Linked DNA regions of Homo sapiens: region 2 is linked to region 1. Evidence: fine-mapped expression QTL. A gene starts in region 1. The other region holds a variant in brackets. All regions are shown on one strand. Distances are from middle to middle. Region 1 holds the start of CASC8 (cancer susceptibility 8). Region 2 overlaps CASC8 (cancer susceptibility 8).

Region 1 (10,054 bases):
AACTATGTCTTTCCAAAATTAGTCTATATCCAGAGACAATATCCTTCTAGGATGAAGGTGTAATAAAGATATTCTCCGATGAAGTAAAACTAAGGGAATATGTTGCTAGCAAGGGAGGTAGGTGCTCAGAAAGAATTCCTCTAAAAAGAAAGTAAATGACAAAAGAAGTCTTGGGTCATCAGGAAGGAAGGAAGAACAACAGAAAGAGTAAAAATACCAGCAAATACTGAAGACTTTCTTCTCTTGATATTTCTAGATCATGTTTGATGATTGAAGAAAAAAAATATAACACTGTCTAATGGGGTTAAAAAAGTATATCAAAGCAGGAAATGTCTAAAATAATTACATTATTGTTGGGAGAAAGCAAACGGAAATAAGCATGGGGGTGTGTAACTATAAAGGAGTAGTATAATAATCTTTGTGGGAGGTAATACTTCTGTATCTTGCAGAAGCACTTACAGAAATCTACACAAGTGATAAAATGACATAGAACTACACACGCACACCCATGCAAATTTGTGCATGCCCATGCCTGTCCCCCCACCCCCACACACTGTACCTCTGTCAATTCCTGATTTTGATATCGTATGATAGTTGTATAAGGTGGAACCATAGAAGGAACCTTGGTGAAGGGTATACAAGACCTCTCAGTACTATCTTTCAAATCTATAATTTAGATAACTAATAATTATGCACTGACAATCAATAATTATATCAAAATAAAATGAATCGTTAATAGATAAACAAATTTTGTTGCATCCATACAGTAGAATATTACCCAATAACAACATGGATAAATCTCATATGCATCATGCTAGGTGAAAAAAGGCATACACAAAAGTTTGTGTACTGTATGATTTCATTTATATAGTGACCTAGAAAATGCAAAACCATAGGGAAATAACTATACCAGCGGATTCCCTGGGGCAGGAAGTGAGTATTGACTATTTGAAGGAAATTTCGAGATGATGCAAGTTTTATATATCTTTTCTTAAATTAAAAAATAATTTAGAAATAAAGTCTCATTATGTTGTCCAGGCTGGAGTGCAGTGGCTATTCACAGGCATGATTACAGTGCACTGCAGCCTGGAACTCCCGGGCTCACGTGCTCCTCCTGCCTCACTCTTCCCAGTAGCTGGGACTCCAGGCAAGTGTTACATACCTTGATGACAATGGTTACATGACTGTATACATTTCTAAAAATTTACGTTTTTAAAATGTATAAAACTCTGTGTAAATTATATGTCTACACACCAAGTTTAATAAAAATGAAAAAAAGCATCTTGAAATCCTAAACTATACCCACAATAATTATGTATGTTGTTTTTTATTTTTTACCATAAAACATTATGTGGTCATAAACACCTATGAGCAAAATAACATTGTTTTCCCAGGATCTTTGTATTACTTCTGTAGACTGCACTCCCAGAAGTTGTATTACAGAGGTGGATGGAGAAGAGTAGAGGAATAAATTTTAGGCACATTTTTACAGGAATATTTGCATATGCAAGTATGCAAAATTACCTCCCAGAAGTATATATATTTTTAGCCAGTTTATAATGCCACTAAAGTTTTGAAAGTACTTCTTTCCCCCACACCCTTGTGGGCGATAGAATTTTGATTGCTACTGTCAGTTGGTTCCACTTGGCTCAGATATCTCTTCCTGATAATTGAAGGGTTTGCACTTATTTGAGACCTTGTAATTATGGCATATAGGATTAGCAGAGCAGAACTGAACCCACACTATTTACCGTTTACTAAACATCCCCTTGAACATTCACACACACGTATGACAAGCTACAAACACTCTTCATTGATAACTATAGTGTCATTCTGGTAATTATCATTAATTTTATTTACCAGAATATTGGTGATGTCTGCAGACAGGAGAATTAGTGGGGTATCTTGTTTCGGTTCTGGAGTGAGTCCCCTTCTTTTAATTTTTATTCTTTGTCCTTTGCCTCTCTGTTATTTTCACATTATCTCCTTGTCCTATTCAATTGTGTCTATCATTCCATTTTACATTTAAATGATATCTTGATTTTGCTTTGGGTTAATTCTCACTCTGTCAGAAATGTGACTTGATCTGTCACAAACTGCCCAAAATACACATTTTAGGATCTTGCATCTTCATCTACTATTTTCCTATGTTTGCAATGATGTCTTTTCCTATTTTCTGTTATTGGATACCTGTGGCACTTTACTCCAAGGAGATGTAGTTTTCTCTAATTTTTTTCTGCAAAATATGCCTACTGTAGTAGACATATTTTGAGGTGCTTTGTCTTTGGTCTGCAATGATGAGCTGTGTTTTATAGTCGCTCCTGGCTTTTCCTTGAATATTAATAATTCTGGGGTAAGCATCTCCCTAAAAGAATTATCCCCTACTCAGGAGAATCCTTCTACTTCCTTTTTGCTTCCTCCCTAGACCTAATACATGAGCATGTTTTCACTTGCTTTACCTCATTTAACTTTCAGATTACTCTCAGAAGGAGATTCAAATACTCCCATTTTGCATGTGAGACAGCCAGATGGGAAAGGGTCCACAGAGAAACTCCAACCAGCCTGCATACTGGGAGGAGTGCACACTGGGGTGGAGCCACAGAAGTTCTCACCATTTGCAGTGGGGAAGAGCCTGGCCCTTCCTATTCCTGGGTGGTAGCTGGGATTCAATTGTGAAGCAGGAAGCACATACTAGGAAGACTCTGGCTCTGCTGCGTCCCTGTTCTGCCCCCATTTTTCCTTTTGCTCAATAAATCCCATTATTCTCACCCTTCAAATTGTCTGCGAGCCTAATCTTTCATGGCCTTGTGACAGGGAGCTTGTCTTTAGCTGAACTAAGGAAGAGTCCCACACCACACGCACACAATATAATGACAAAGCCCTCCCCACCAGCACTACTACTACTGCCAAGAACTGTCCTCTAAACAGTGTGACCCAGCTTTGTGGAGAGTTGGCCAGATGGGCGTCACCTGAGCTCAAGGACAATCTCCTCTGCTCTGGTCTTGCCTCATGCCCAAGCTGGATTTGATCCCAGGTCTCTTGACTTCCCTTCTTTCCTCCCTACTTATTCCCATGCTGGATTTGAGCCCAGGTCTCTTGACTTTCTTTCTTTCCTTCCTTTCTTCCTTCCTTCCTTCCTTCATTCCTTCCTTCCTTCCTCCCTCCCTCCCTCCCTCCCTCCCTTCTTTCCTTCCTTCCTTCTTTTCTTCCTCTAATGTCTATTGAGCACATATTAAATGCCAGCTTCCTTCTAGGATTTGGAGTTTTTCAATGAAAAAAAAAGTGGACTCCTGCTTTTGTGATATTTGAATTCTAGTGAGTGGACACAGACAGACTACAAAGCATAAATGTTATAAAGTGGTGAGGGGTGGTTGCTATAGACAAAAAAGTATAAGGGAGTGTAGGGGATATCAGGAGTTCTGGGGGATGATGGGATTGCAATTTCAAATGCAGAGGTTAAGATAGACCTCATTGAAAAGGTGACATTAGAGCAAAGGCTTGATGTCTATGTGAAGAGCATTCTGGACACATGGAGCAGCTGGTGCAGAGGACTGAAAGTGGAACATGGGTTGATTGTGGCTTAGCAATGAGGGGCAGTGCAGACAGAGGTGCAAAGAGGCATCAGGGGGGCCTAGTCATGAGAGGCTCTGCAGGTCATGGTTGGAATTAGATCTGGTGCTGTCCCTCTATGTTGTGGTCAGCAAGATGATTTCACCAGCAGCTTATTCAATATGCTTTCTAAGAAAATCATCATTTAACCAGTTAGTGTGGATTCTCCTGGCCAAATCCTAGTGTGCAAATATGCTGGAAACATTCAATCTTGTTTCCAGCAAGGCTTGGGATAATTTAGAAACTGTTCAATCAACTCAGTAAATATGAATTAAACATTTACAGTTGTATTAAATATTCGAAAGATAGGAACCAAAACAGTCTATCAAGTAATTGTACATATTTGTGCATTTACAAAATGCATATTCATGAGAGCTATGTAAATATATATTTAGTCATTTCCTCTTTCATGTGAAGTGCTATGGCTGAACTACAGATGGTAACTTTCTTGTGTCTGATTATGAAAATGGCACAGTAAAGCATTCTGACATTGTCCTTAGAAAAAGATCATTGTTTGGCCATTACCATGAGTTCAGTGTTCTTGGAACTAGGGAGAAGAAAGTTCTAGAACATGTCTGTTTTTGTGGCAGGCATCTAGGGAGGAAAGGCAGTTATTTCTAAGATACGTGGCTCTCATACTTTTTCCACCAAGGGTCACAAAAAGGAGGAGGTTTATGTGTAGGACATGCTGAAGTCCTGTGGGCTCTGTATTCCAGCCACAGTGCCACCCTTTCTTTCTCTGTCAGGAAAGCATAGTGGGAGGGTAGGGAGTGAGCATAATGACATTTTGGGTTAATATTTAATTCATTCTAATTTATTCAAAAACGTGTCTAACTTCTCATGATATCTATTAATACTAACATGACTGGCAACCCCTCACAACTGCCTCTGACAACTCTTGTGGGTCCTTCTGCCACATCTAAGGACTCTCTGGATAAGGAGATGGTGAGAGAACACACATTCTAATTTTGTCTTTGTGTGAAGGTCTTATGTGAAAATCTTTCTGGGAATTAGAGTTTTCTAAAGGAATCTCTATTTCCTAAGGTCCTGATACTCTTACTAGCATTTGCCAGTTAATTCTGTGAGACCCAAATGTGTGCAGGGCCTGGACACTTTATCTCATACTAGGTCTCTTCCTTAACCATCCACTATTCCCCAAATATTTACACAGGTGGACTGCGTAGTTAGACTGATATTTGTGTCAGCCTTGAAAACTCAGGATGACTCTCGAAGCCGACTGCTCATGAAGTATCGTTGCTTGGATCTCCTCTTTTGGAGACTAAGGGAGCTTGACTGTGTGCAAGTTAGCAATAAGGACTGACTACTGGATTAGGTGGACCACGTGAATATCATCTTGTGGTGGCCTTTTGGGATCTTCTGATCTCACTCAGAGTAAAAGCCAAAGTCCTCACTATGACCTAGAAAACGCTTTGTGATCTGTGCCCCCAGGTCTATGACTTCACCTCTAACTAATCCCCCTCACTTGCTTAACCTCCTTCCTCAATGGCCTCTCTGCTAGCTCCTTGAACCACCCCAGGCCCTTTGCACCTGCTATTCCCTCTCCTCAGCATGCTCTGCCCCAGACAATTGCAATGCTAACTTCTTACTTCCTTCAGGTTTCACTCAGAAATGACTTTCTCAGTGGGGTCTCCCATGACCATTTTATTTAAGATTTCAACTACTTTGCCAGTATTTCACTTCTCCTCCCTTGATCTTTTCTTCCAAGCACTCACTGCCCTCTTGCACACTGTATCTTTTACTTATTTATCTTGTTCAGTTTCTGCCTGCCTCACCTGCCTCACCACAGTGTACATTTCACGAGGGCAGGGATTTTGTCTGTTTTGTTGATTGCTGTAGCCCTGGCATCTTGGGCAGTGCCAGCACCTGTTAGCATTAAATACATATTTACTGAATGAATGAGTGGCTTCATGCTTAAAAGCAAGAAGAGAGACCTTCATAGAGAAGTAGGAAAATGAATTGTTGCACAAATAAAGGGCCATGTAATGAGAGAGAGAGAGCAAGAGAAAGAGGTGAGATGCTGATAGATTTTCCAAAAACATTCCAGTTCCTACTTCCCATCTTTCATGAACCAAGATTTTTACTTCCTATCCATGGGCTATCCCTAAAAATTCCATTTTCTTAGGCTACTGTAATAGGGCTTGTCTTTATTGCTACCAAAAATCTCTAAGCAAAAAAAAAAAAAAATAGAGTCAAACTAGAAGATGCTAATTGTTTTCTCAACATCCAGCATGTCTTTGGAGAATGGGGTTCTCATGTAGCAAACAGTTTTGTGGGTTCTCTTCCGTGTTTCCTTTCTTGGATAACTAGGTCACAGACAGCTGGTGTTTCCCATGTGGCAAAGGGAGCATGCAGAGAAATCCCCGCCTCCTCTCTCTTTGCTTTTCAAGCCCTGCTGAATGCCTCCTAATGATTTCATCTGCTCGGAGGTCTGCTGGCTTTTCCACTCTCGTAGAAGCTGGTGGCGCCGGGGGCTGATGCATGCTCTGACTACTGACTTGAAACATGCTTTGATGAATTAGTGCAACTCGGCCAGCCATTTACTTTAAATTTTACCCTTGATTCTTCCTCTAGCAAACAATTAAGGAGCAGCAGTGGCTTCCTGCAGGGGAGACCAATGCCTTCTGTCCTCAGCGGAAACAGCTTGGCATTCTTCCAATTGATGAATGGCATGGACCAGGAGCACTAGTTATCTTCAGCTTCTGAGCATCCGAATAAATAAACATACAAATGCATAACATAAAATAAATTCAAATTACAAATGAGAAAACCAATCTAGGTTACCGGCAAGTCCTATGACTTGATGTGGAGGCCTGGAAGTGCATCCTTGAATCTTGCAATGCAGTGAGCCAAGGAGCAATGAGAGGCCACATGAATAACCGGGCCAGTGACAAGACACATGTCCTCCTCCTTGCTGGGTGAGTAGCCCAGTCCAACCCCAAAAGCTCCTGAGTAAGAGGAAAATGTCTCTTTAACAGTATTAAGGGATAATTTATTATGTGTATCCTTCCAGGGAAGCACAATGTCAGTAAAGGCCCATTGCATTTGCATTATTTCCAGACAACAGCAGCAGCAGAAAGGGACACTGATTTATTTCAGAGCAAGCACAGGTGAATGTAGTGTCTGTTGGGAATGAGCCAGGGAGCACTTAACCCGTTCTGAGTCTTTCTAATGCTTTAGGGGGAACCATAGGTTTTTGGAATAGTTCTATTGGCTTCTTTGGTCAAATTCAGTGTCCCTGAGCCTGTGCTTCTCAATCGCTTGGTAATAAAAGCTCTTACAGGGTGGAGGTCAGCGAAAAAAATATGTTTAAAAACAGAAAATCTGGTTTTATGCCGTGGCCACGTTAATTTCTTTCCGTGTGACCTGGGCAAATAATTTAATCCTTTTACGACTCAGTTATCTCTTTTGAAAAATGAGTGTAATAATGCTCCCTGCAGGATTTTAATGAAAATCAACTAAGCAAATGTATTAATGAGTGACATATAATGAATTGTATAAATGACATTGTTTTGGTGTGACATCAATTTGGGATTCCTGGGACACAAACAGAAGTTTAGGTATTATCTTCAGGTATGGTGTCTTGGCTAGCTTAGCTAGCAGAGAGCTTTTTTCTCAGAGGAATCATTCAGTGGGAGGTAAAACAGTCACTCTTTGAATTCTGGAATTAGAGAGTTATGAAATTCAAAAGGTCATGGTAGAAAGTGTCTTGGAGACATCTCTTCCGAGCTTCTGTTTTGGCAGAGGGAAAAACTGAAGCTTAGGGAAGCAAAGTAAACTGTAAACATCTCGGAGGGTGAGGTCAATCTTAATTATCTTTGGTTGTTGTTTCTTATCAGTATACACCAGAATGCCCCGCATGCAGCGAATGCTCAAAAAGTGTTGGTGGAAGTGACAGAATTCCATCACCATTAAACACAACCAGTGTTGCGGTTGACAATGGTAGGTTGGAGTATTTTCTCTTCTGATCCAGATTAGATCAGAATTTGATACTATTTTAATATTAAGCCTTGAAAAGAATGTGTTTACTGGTCAACTGAGGCATCTTGGAAAGGGACATGACCCCTATAGAGCCAGAAACATCCTGGTAAATCCTCTAGTTTCAACTTCTGACAGAAAGTCCTTGAAGTCTTAAAGAACAATTCCTTTTATTAAACCTTCATACAATTTTAACTTACACAGTAGCACACAATTACAAAATGTTACCCAATACATTACCTTATTTAATTCTCCTAATGATCTGGTGAAGTAGGCATTATTATTTCCATTTCTCAGAGTAAGAAATTGAGGCTCTGAGAGTCTGAGTGATGACCCAAGGATGTATAGGCACCGTCAGGACTGGAACTTGAACCCAGAACTCTTGATTTAAGTGTATTTCATTAACACTACCTTGTAAAGTACCAAGTAGATATCCCTTGCTCCTGTTTCTTCCTTCCTCCTTTTTCTCTCCCCTTCTCTCCCTTGTTCCTCTCTAGGCACTGAAGCAGGTGAAAAATCCGTACAGCAGCTTCTGTCTTTGAAGAGTTTGCAGCCTCTTGAAGAGGGTTTAGAGGTTAAAAAAAGGTAATTCTAAATGCAGAGGATCTTTATTACGCACTAACCCTGATTGAACACAGCCCAAAAGGGTTAACTGACCTGCCTGGGAGATGGGAAAGAGAGATACACCACAGTCCAAGATACAGTTGCTGCTGGAAAAAGAAATCGCTGAAATCCCAAAACACCCCTTTCAAAATATCTAGGCTTTCAAAGCCGTGTCTTTCCTTCTCCCCTCTCTTAGACGTGAGGAATGAGAGATGTGTGTGTGTGACACATCCAACTGGAATCTGCAAATCACTGATCCTTTAAAACCTATTTTTGTAAATACCAATAAAACAAGTCTTGACGCTTGTTCCTGAGTTCAGGGAATTCATTCAACCTGGAGCCCTGGAGGAGGAAAGCTATTCCCTAGGAATTTTTCCCCTTTCAGGTATCTCACCTGAAACTGAAACTTGTCTCTCACTCTTCCATTTTTCTGCCTTTCTTTGATTCAGAGCCTGTAATCCCTTCTGGTTTTCCTCCTTTGTCTGCCTTCACTTTGTCTAAGCAACAGAATAGTTTAGTTTGCCAAGTGAATAATACCACAAAGTGTTGAAGTCTGGAAATAATGCCTCATGGGCACTCCATAACTATTTGTTTAATGATTAAATGAATCGGTGAATAAATGAATGAATAATGGCCAAGTTTAAATACTGGCTCTATCATTTACCAGTTGCCCAGCTTTAAGACAGATATTTAACCTGTTTGTGCCTCAATTTCTTATCCTTCCATATTATGTGTAGGAGATTATAAAAATGTATATACAAGCATAACTTGAGATATTGTGGGTTTGGTTACAGACCACTGCAATAAAGCAAATATTGCCATAAAGCAAGTCACGTGAAGTTTTTGATTTTCCAGTGCATATAAAAGTTATGTTTACACTGCTGTAGTCTACTGTGTGTGAAATAGCATTATGTCTAAAGCATGTACACATCTTATTTTACTTTTTTAATTTTTTTGAGACTGAGTCTCAGTCTGTCACGCAGGCTGGAGTGCAGTGATGCGATCTCGGCTCACTGCAACCTCCACCTTCCAAGTTCAAGTGATTCTCCTGCCTTGGCCTCCCAAGTAGCTGAGATTACAGAGGTGCATGCCACCACACTCAGCTAATTTTTAAAAACTTTTTTTTTTTTTTTTAGTAGAGGCAGGGTTTTACCATGTTGGTCAGGCTGATCTCAAACTCCTGACCTCAAGTGATCCTCCCGTCTCGGCCTCCCAAAGTGCCGGGATTACAGGTGTGAGCCACCATGCCCATTCTTAAATGTACACATCCTAATTAAAAAATATTTTATTGCTAGCTGGGCGTGGTGGCTCATCCCTGTAATCCCAGCATTTTGGAAGACTGAGGCAGGAGGATCACCAGAAGTCAGGAGTTCTAGCCTGGCCAATATGGTGAAACTTTGTCTCTACTAAAAATACAAAAATTAGCCAGGTGTGGTGGTGGGCGCCTGTAGTTCCAGCTACTAGGGAGGCTGAGACAGGAGAATCACTTGAACACAGGAAGCAGAGGTTACAGTGAGCCGAGATCATGCCACTGCATTCCAGCCTGGGCAACAGAGCGAGACTCCATCTCAAAAACAAACAAACAAACAAAAAAACTTTATTGCTAAATAATAAACCTGGGCCTTCAGCAAATCATAATCTGTTTTTGCTGGTGGAGGGTCTTGTCTCAATGTTGATGGCTGCTGACTGATCAGGGTGGTGGTTGCTGAAGGTTAGGTAGCTATGACAATTTCCTAAAATAAGACAAGAATGAAATTTAGTGCATTGATTGACTCTTCTTTTTATGAAAGATTTCTCTGTAGCTTGCAATGCTGTTTAACAGCACTTTACCCATAGTATTATAGAT
Region 2 (10,054 bases), 49 kb after region 1:
TGTGGGATCAGCTGTAATATCATTTGTTGTTTCTGATTGTGCTCGTTAGGATCTTCTCCTTCATTTTTTTTGTTAATTTAGCTAGCAGTCTATTTTTCAAAGAATAAACTCTTGCTTTCATTGATTTTTTGTATTGATTTTTGCATCTCAACTTCCTTAAGTTCTCTAATTTAATTATTTTCTTCTATTTCATTTTAATGATTTATTTTCTTTGGGATTAGTTTGTTCTTTTTTTTTCTAATTCTTCTAGGTGCAAAGTTAGATTTTTAATTTGAGATGTTTCTAACTTTTTGATGAAGGCATTCAGGGTTATAAACTTTCTCTTATCACTGCTTTGGATGAAAACAGTAATAGTAAAAGACTTCAACATCCCACTGACGGTATTAGACAGATTATCAAGGCAGAAAACCAACAAAGAGACTCTAGATTTAAACCCAACACTTGACCAATTGGACCTCATAGACATCTACACAGCACTTCACCCAACAATAACAGAATATTCATTCTTCTCATCTGCACAAAAAAAATGTATTCTAAGGTCCATTACATGCTTGATCATAAAGCAAGTCTCAATAAATTAAAAAATTGAAATAATACCAAGCACACTCTGGGATCACAGTGCAATAATAATAGTAATCAATATCAGGAAGAGCTCTTAAAACTATACAAATACTTTAAAATTAAACAATTTACTCCTGAATAACTCCTGGGCAAACATCAAAATTAAGGCAAAAATAAAATATTATTTGAAATTTTTCACGCATGTCTGTGTGAAGAGACCACCAAACAGGCTTTGTGTGAGCAACATGGCTGTTTATTTCACCTGGGTGCAGGCAGGCTGAGTCCGAAAAGAGAGTCAGCGAAGGGAGATAAGGTTGGGGCCGTTTTATAGGATTTGGGTAGGTAAAGAAAATTACAGTCAAAGGGGGTTTGTTCTCTGGCGGGCAGGAGTGGGGGTCACAAGGTGCTCAGTGGGGGTGGTTTTTGAGCCAGGATGAGCCAGGAAAAGGACTTTCACAAGGTAATGTCATCACTTAAGGCAAGGACCGGCCATTTTCACTTCTTTTGTGGTGGAATGTCATCAGTTAAGGTGGGGCAGGGCATATTCACTTCTTTCGTGATTCTTCAGTTACTTCAGGCCATCTGGGCGTATATGTGCAAGTCACAGGGGATGGGATGGCTTGGCTTGGGCTCAGAGGCCTGACATTCCTGCCTTCTTATATTAATAAGAAAAATAAAACAAAATGGTGTTGAAGTGTTGGGGTGGCTAAAATTTTTGGGGGGTGATATGGACAGAGAATGGGCGATGTTTCTCAGGGCTGCTTCAAGCAGGATTAGGGGCAGCGTGGGAACCTAGAGTGGGAGAGACTAAGCTGAAGGGAGGTCTTGTGGTAAGGGGTGATATTGTGGGGATGTTAGAAGAAACGTTTGTCGTATAGAATGATTGGTGATGGCCTGAATACGGTTTTGGATGAATTGAGAAACTAAATGGAATAACAGAAGGAGAAAAACAGGTATAAAAGGTCTAAGAATTGGGACAACTCAGGATATCCGATTAGAGAGTGCCTAAGGAGATTCAGCATAGTCCTGCCAGCAAAGATTATTTATTTACTTCAAGAGTTAAGAGTGGCAGTTTGGGGATAGCACCAGGAGATATCAGCTGTGATGGCTTGGAAAAACAGTGTAAACCGGCAGTGTAAACAAGAGCAGGGCATGTATGAGTAGTTGAGAACAGTGAATAGGAGTATGACTAGACAGAAGATAGTAGGGATGACAAGTTTTTTTGGGGGCACAGTCTAAGTTGGTCTGGTGTCTGGAATGAGACTGGGGCCTAATAAAAAGGAGCGTCTATACAGGAGCTTAAATGGGCTGTACCCTGTAGCATTCCGAGGACAGGCCAGAATTCTGAGAAGGGAAAGTGGTAAAAGTATTGTCCAGTCCTTTTTGGTGGCTGAGCTTGGTGAGGTGTGTTTTTAAAAGACCTTTAGTCCATTCTACTTTTCTTGAAGACGGAGGACCGTAAGAGATATAAAGGTTTCACTGAATACTAAGAGCCTGAAAAACTGCTTGGCTGATTTGACTAATAAAGGCTCATCTGTTATCACACTGTATTGAGGTGGGAAGGCTTAACCGAGGAATTATGTCTGACAGAACGGAAGAAATGACTGCGGTGGCCTTCTCAGACCCTGTAGGAAAGGACTTTACCTATCCAGTGAAAGTATCTACCTAGACTAAGAGGTATTTTAGTTATCTGACTCAGGGCATGTTGAGTAAAGCTAATTTGCCAGTCCTGGGTGGGGCAAATCCTCGAGCTTGATGTGTAGGGAAGGGAGGGGGCCTGAATAATCCCTAAGGAGTAGTAGAATAGCAGATGGAACACTGAGAAGTTATTTCCTTGAGGATAGATTTCCACGATGGAAAGGAAATGAGAGGTTCTAAGAGGCAGGCTAGTGGCTTGTACTATAGCATAGCCTGCCTTTGCTGGTGTGTGGCGATTAGGCCTGGTGGAACCGCCATCAATAAATCAAGCGTGATCAGGGTGAGGAACAGGAAAGAAGGAAATTTGGGGAAATGGGGTGAATGTCAGGTGGATCAGAGAGATACTGTCATGGGGGTCAGGTGTGGTATCAGGAATAATGTGGGAGGCCGGACTGAAGTCTGGGCCAGGAACAACGGTAATTGTGGGAGACTCAACAAAGAGTGAGTACAGCTGAAGGAGCCGGGAAGCAGAAAGTATATGCGTCAGGTATGAGGAAGAAAATAGATTTTGGAAGTTATGAGAACTGTAGAGAGTGAGTTGAGCATAGTTTGTGATTTTGAGGGCCTCTAAAAGTATTAAAGCAGCGGCAGCCGCTGCATGAAGATATGAGGGCTAGGCTAAAACAGTAAGGTCAAGTTGTTTGGACAGAAAGGCTATACGGTGTGGTCCTGGTTGTTGTGTAAGAATTCTGACCACGTTAACCATGCCTAGGAAGGAAAGGAGTTGTTGTTTTGTAGAAGGTGCTTGGGTTTGAGAGATCAGTCGGACACGATTGGCAGGGAGAGCACATGTGTTTTTATGAGAATTATGCCGAGATAGGTAACAGATGAGGATAAAATTTGGGCTTGACTGAAGTAATGGGGGCTGTCTGTGAAGTCTTGCAGCAGTACAGCCTAGGTAATTTGCTGAGCCTAATGGGTCTCAGGGTCAGTCTAAGTGAAAGCAAAGAGAGGCTGGGACGAGGGGTGCAGGGGAATAGTGAAAAAAGCATCTTTAAGATCAAGCACGGAATAGTGAGTTGTGGAGGAAGGTATTGAGGACAAAAGAGGGTACGGGTTGGGCACCACAGGGGGGATAGGCAAAACAATTTGGTTGATAAGGCGCAGATCCTGAACTAACTTGTAAGGCTTGTCTGGTTTTAGGACAGGTAAAATGGGGGAATTGTAAGGAGAGTTTATAGGTTTTAAAAGGCCATGCTGTAGCAGGTGAGTGATAACAGGCTTTAATCTTTTTAAAGCGTGCTGCGGGATGGGATATTGGCGTTGAGTGGGGTAAGGGTGATTAGGTTTTAATGAGATGGTAAGGGGTCACCAAGGAGGGAGTAGAGGTATCTTATACTTGTGGGTTAGGGTCGGGGGATACAAGAGGAGGACGCAAGGAGGCTTTGGATTGGGAAGAAGGGCGGCAATGAGATATAGCTGTAGTCCAGGAATAGTCAGGGAAGCAGATAATTTAGTTAAAGTGTCTCAGCCTAATAAGGGAACTGGGCAGGTGGGGATAACTAAAAAGGAGTGCTTAAAAGAGTATTGTCTAAGTTGGCACCAGAGTTGGGGAGTTTTAAGAGGTTTAGAAGCCTGGCCGTCAATACCCACAACAGTTATGGAGGCAAGGGAAACAGGCCCTTGAAAAGAAGGTAATGTGGAGTGGGTAGCCTCCATATTGATTAAGAAGGGGACGGGCTTACCTTCCACTGTGAGAGTAACCCAAAGCTTGGCGTCCGTGATGGTCTAGGGGGCTTCCGAGGCAATCAGGCAGTGTCAGTCTTCAGCTGCTAAGCCGAGAAGATCTGGGAAGGAGTCAGTCAGAGAGCCTTGGACCAGCGTTCTAGGGGCTCTGGGAGTGGCTGCCAGGTGAGTTGAACAGTCCAATTTTCAGTGGGGTCCCACACAGATGGGACACGGCTTAGGAGGAATCCCAGGCTGCGGGCATTCCTTGGCCCAGTGGCCAGATTTCCGGCACATGTAGCAAGCTCCTGGGGGAGGAGGTTCTGGAGGAACGCCTGGCCGCTGCGGTTCAGGCGTTTGGAAGTTCTTGTGTGCTGCAGATGTGGCTGGGGTTTGTCTCACAGTGGAGGCAAGTAATTGCAACTTTTTTCTATTATTGTACACCTTGAAGGCGAGGTTAATTAAATCCTGTCATGGGGTTTGAGGGCCGGAATTTAATTTTTGGAGTTTTATTTAATGTCGGGAGCAGAATGGGTAATAAAGTGCATTTTGAGA[A/G]TAAGACGGCCTTTTGACCTTTTAGGGTCTAGGGCTGTAAAGTATCTCAGTATTGCTGCTAAACAAGTCATGAACTGGGCTGGATTTTTATATTTGATGAAAAAGAGCCTAAACGCTATCTGATTTGGGATAAAGAAAAAGGAGCATTAACCTTGACTATGCCTTTAGCTCCAGCCACCTTTCTAAGAGTAAATTGCTGGGCAGGTGAGGGAGGGCTAGTCACGGAAAGAAACTGTAAGCCGGACCAGGTGTGAGGAGCGGAGGCGATAAAAAGATTATAGGGTGGAGGAGCGGAGGCTGAGGAAGAATTGGGACCTAGCTCGGCCTGGCGAGGAGGTGAGAGGTCAGATGGGTCTGTAGAAAAGGAAGATTAGAAAGACTCAGCGATGCTTGGGGTTGGGACTGAGGGGACAGGCGGGAGGGAAAGAAGGAAGATTTGGGACGAGTTGTACTGGGCACAGAGACTAGGAAGGGACTGATGTGTAAAAGAATGCCTGGACGTCAGGCGCCTCGGACTGTTTGCCTATTTTACAACAAGAATTATTTAGATCTTGCAGGATGGAAAAATTCAAAGTGCCATTTTCTGGCTATTTGGAACTACTGTCGAGTTTGTATTGGGGTCAAGTGGCATTGCAGAAGAAAATAAGGCATTTAGGTTTTAGGTCAGGTGTGAGTTGAAGAGGTTTTAAGTTTTTGAGAACACAGGCCAAGGGAGTAGAAGGAGGAATGGAGGGTGGAAGGTTGCCTATACTGAAGGAAGCAAGCCTAGAGAAAAGAGAGAGTAGAGAAATGGAGGGAAGGGGTTCGGGGGTTCTTACCTTCCAGAAAAGGGGTGGGGTGCAGAGATAAGAGGTTGGGGTGTGGAAATAAGGGATTGGGGCACAGAGATATAAGAGGTTGGGGCACGGAAATAAGGGATTGGGGTGCAGAGATACGAGGTTGGGGCATGGAAATAAGGGATTGGGACACAGAGATAAGAGGTCGGGGTGCGGAAATAAGCAACTGGGGGGTTCTTGCCCCCCAGGAAAGCAGGACTTGCCGCTAAGGGTGAAGGAGAAGGGGTTGAGGGGTACTTGCCCCTGCCCCAGAAAAGCAGAGAAGGGGTTGGGGTACTTGCCCCTTCCCCAGAAAAGCGGGACTTGCCGCTAAGGGTGAAGGACCAAGGCAGGCGTCCCTGCGTGTGGTCTGACACCCTTGAAACGTGAGTGTATAATCAGAGAGGCGTCCCTGCAAGGATTAAACACCAAGGGAAGGCTGCCTTCCCAGTCCGTGACCGGAGCCGGAGTTTTGGGTCCACGGATAAAACGTGTCTCCTTTGTCGCTACCAGAAAATGAAAGGAATTGAAATTAAGGGAGACATTGAAGTGTGGCACCAAGATTGAAAGGAGAAAGAGGTTGAGGGATAGTGAGGGAGGTTGGAGAAGAGAGTAAAAAGAGGCTGCTTACCGGATTTGAAATTGGTGAGATGTTTCTTGGGCTGGTTGGTCTGAGGACCTGAGGTCGTAGGTGGATGTTTCTCATGGAGCAAAGAACAGGAGGACAGGGGATTGATCTCCCAAAGGAGGTCCCCCGAGCCGAGCCACAGCACCAAATTTCATGCGCGTCCGTGTGAAGAGACCACCAAACAGGCTTTGTGTGAGCAACATGGCTGTTTATTTCACCTGGGTGCAGGCGGGCTGAGTCCAAAAAGAGAGTCAGCGAAGGGAGATAAGGGTGGGGCCGTTTTATAGGATTTGGGTAGGTAAAGGAAAATTACAGTCAAAGGGGGTTTGTTCTCTGGCGGGCAGGAGTGGGGGTCGCAAGGTGCTCAGTGGGGGTGCTTTTTGAGCCAGGATGAGCCAGGAAAAGGATTTTCACAAGGTAATGTCACCACTTAAGGCAAGGACTGGCCATTTTCACTTCTTTTGTGGTGGAATGTCATCAGTTAAGGTGGGGCAGGGCATATTCACTTCTTTTGTGATTCTTCAGTTACTTCAGGCCATCTGGGTATTCAAGTCACAGGGGATGGGATGGCTTGGCTTGGGCTCAGAGGCCTGACAAAATTAATGAAAATACACAACTTACCAAACTCTCTGTGATGCAGCCAAAGCCTTTTACATATTAATTCATTTATTTCTCCTGATAGTCTCTGAGTTGGTACTAGTATTATTATTTCTTATTTTATAGATGATAACACTAAGGTACAGAGCAGTTAAGTAACTTCCCTTAGATCACACAGTTAGTAGCTGAAAGCTTTGGGATATGACTCTAGGCAGTCAGGCTATAGAACCTGTGCCCTTCATCTCCTGCTCTGATAAATGGCTACTACTACAGCTAATACACATATTATGGTATTTGAATTTCATATCTCTAGAGAGTAGTTACTATAAGCCCTGCTTTCAATAATGGAGACACTGAAACTCGGAGAGGCTAAGTTACTAGGTCTACGACTCATGGTAAATAGCAAGATCAATGAGTTTTCCACTGTCTCTCAATTTCATGGACAACCCTATCAAATGAGGCAGGGTATGTTAAATGTCCGAAGTTTTTATTTTATAGAATTAAGCTAAATATGAACCCTAGGACCAGGAACAAGAAAATGTAATACTTATCACCTCATGGTGCTTTGTATGAAGGCAGGGACCTGGAATATTCATAGTTACCTGATGCAAAAATCTAGACCTCTGGGGCCCATGCCATACCCAGAGAATCAGAACCTCTGAGGTGAGGCTTAGAAATCTGTGGCTGACAAGATTCTCACGTGTTTTTTGATGTGTAGCCAATTTGAAAACCACAGCAACAGCAGAGCTGAATGCAGATTGCTGAGTGGCATTTCTCCACGAAGTGCCCCAGAATGCGGTTGTGGGAGAAGCTTGGACAAGAGCCCCCAACTCTGATCTCAATTACTGACTCTGTCCCTCAGGACTTGTTGACAATAAGCAACCCACTCAACTTCACTCAGCTACATTTTCTTCATCTGCCATCACAAGGAACATAAGTGTTAACACATGTAAAAGCCTAAGTACAAAAGCTGATGCACAAAATGCAAGTTTTCTTTCCCTACGAAATTGTTCTGAAAGGACTTTTTCAATTATAGAGGACTATGCAGAAAGAATAGAATGATTTACTCTGAACAGTTCTACACACTCAACACCTGCCTTTTGTGCTGAAACATTTAATTTCTTGTGGGCATGCCTGAAATCATCATGGTTTCTAAATGCTCAAGTTTCTTGTTGATGCTAATCCGAAGATATTTCTAGTAGTCGCTGAAGCTAGTTGTCTGAAACTTAATTATCTATAGATAAAGTTTGTTTGTAGAACACCCAGGCCCTCAATTTCTCCTTCTTAAGTCTGAAATCAACATGGTGGTGGGTTGCCTCCCAAAATATGCCAAAAAGAAAAGGGAAGCATAAATTAGTTCCTTTGGGCTATGTCTAGTGAAGCAAAAACCCCATGTCTGTGTGTTCATCATTTACTGGGCATCTTTTGCAGCCTAAAGAGGCTAATCTGGTAAGCTCTAGTGGGTGGTGTTACGTTTCCAGCAAAGGAGAGATTTGGATGCCTTGAAATACATGGACAATGTCATAAGGTTACCCAGGTTGGAGAAATAACCCCATTAGTTATAGATAGCAATTTATGCTACCATGAGTCCTCTAACAGACTACCTCATAAGGAGCTCAATTATTTTCTGATTCCTGCCAATGTAGCTTCTCATAGAGAGAAAATAAAAATAAAATGGTTTCCAATCATGATTTGGTTCCCCTGTGACTTGGCTTCAGGGAAGGAAACTCACCAACTCAGACCAACCTGAAACTTTTGTCTTCTTTCCCCCCATTGAAAATTAATAAACTGACACTCTGGTATATCTCCTAGCTGCACAGGCATGTTGGTTAGCCTGAGTCAGGCTGAATTCTGTGTGTTGAAAAGATGATTTTCTTTCCAAACATCCTCTCTTAAATGATGTCAAGGTCTTTGGCTCACAGTCTCTCACTCAAATGTTATCAGCCCCGAGCAGTTTGCATTGTGATGCCTGTTGGGGATACAAAAGCAGAACAAGGCACCCATCCCTGTCTTCAAGGGGTTTGCAGTATTGCTGGGAAACAAGCAATCAGATAAATTTCAGAATCATACAAGATGAGACATGATCAGAGGCTCAATGGAACACATTTAAATGGGGTTGGAGAGGTAAGTTGGAGCCTAGGAATGGGGTTCACGTAGAAGTGTGGTGGTCAGAGGGAGAAGTCGTTGTCTTCTGCAGTCTAGATGTTTCCTGTTGGATTGGCCCAAGTGGGATAGGTAGGCAGGGAGCAGAGAGGATAGCCTGCCATGCCAAGAAATGGCCTGGGCAGAGATTCTAGACCACTTTGGAATTTCTGTCATGGAGGTTCTGATCATTGAATCCATGGACTCACACAGAAGGTCATGTCCTCCCCACTCCCAGAGATAAGAGGGGAGGCAACATGCTTGCAAAATAAGTGGTCTCCAGGCCGGGTGCCGTGGCTCACGCCTGTAATCCCTGCACTTTGGAAGGCCAAGGCGGGTGGATCACCTGACGTCAGAAGTTCAAGACCAGGCTGGCCAACATGATGAAACCCCGTCTCTACTAAAAATACAAAAAATTAGCCGGACCTGTGGGTAGGCACCTGTATTCCCAGCTACATGGGAGGCTGAGGCAGGAAAATCACTTGAACCTGGGAGGCGGAGGTTGCAGTGAGCCGAGATTGTGCCACTGCACTCCAGCCTGAGTGGCAAGAGCAAAACTCCGTCTAAAAAAAAAAAAAGTCTCAAATCTGAATATGTCAGCAAATCTTTCCATATTGGCCAGATTCTCAAAAATGCTGCTCCTCTGCTCTAGCCCAGTATCACCTTCCCTAAGGAGCCTGGGGAGCAGTTTTCCCAAATTATACACAGGGATATGCTCTGTACTTTTCCACTCATAATTAAATAAATATTTGAATAGTTACTTGTTTAATGACTGTCTCTCCTACCAGACAGTCAGCTTCATTAAATAAAAAGTACTTAGCATGGTGCTTGTCTCCTAGTAAGGACTCAATAAATGTTGTCTCTTTGTGCTACTTGTGTTTCATGAGAGCAAAGCCTGTTTCTGTCTAGTCATCAGTGTATTCCCAGTGCTAAGCAAGACGTCTGGCACAAGAGAGTCTCAGTAACATATTTATTCAATGAATGAACTCTTGGTTCCACTGCCCCATTCCCATCTCACCACCACAAAACTACTTTTCTTATAGCTTTCCCCAATTCAGTAAATGATAATTCTAATCTAGGAATTTTTCAGGTCAAAAACCTTACTGTCAGCCTTGACTCCTTTCTTTCACATCCAAGCCTATTCCAACAGCAATGGCAACCAACTCTGGCCTCAAAATTTACCCTTAAACAATGTCTTATCATCAATTCTCTTATGGCCACTCTAGACCAAGCAACCATGGCTTCGCAGCTGATCTGTCACTAGAGACTCCTGATGCATCCCTTGCTTCTGCACTTGGCCTTCTAGTCTCTTCTCCATAGAGCAGCCAGAGTGATTCCTTTCTAACACAATTCAGAGCATGACACTCCTCTGTCCACACATCTCCAATGACTT

Evidence for each region. PIP is the estimated chance that this variant, and not a neighbour inherited with it, causes the effect.
Region 2: its variant is fine-mapped to the expression of CASC8 in whole blood (INTERVAL, PIP 0.99).

What each region holds. Positions count from the first base shown.
Region 1 is chr8:127,477,219-127,487,272 of GRCh38, reverse strand. CASC8 (cancer susceptibility 8) reads left to right here and starts at 5,134. Exons shown (of 6, transcript NR_117100.1): 1 at 5,134-5,639; 2 at 6,202-6,545; 3 at 7,467-7,569; 4 at 8,103-8,190.
Region 2 is chr8:127,428,167-127,438,220 of GRCh38, reverse strand. The region is part of intron 4 of CASC8 (cancer susceptibility 8); the gene reads left to right. Among named protein-coding and RNA genes, the nearest start is that of POU5F1B, 17 kb to the right of the region's middle. RefSeq lists an enhancer at 5,091-6,005. The variant A/G (reference allele first, on the strand shown) is at 4,480.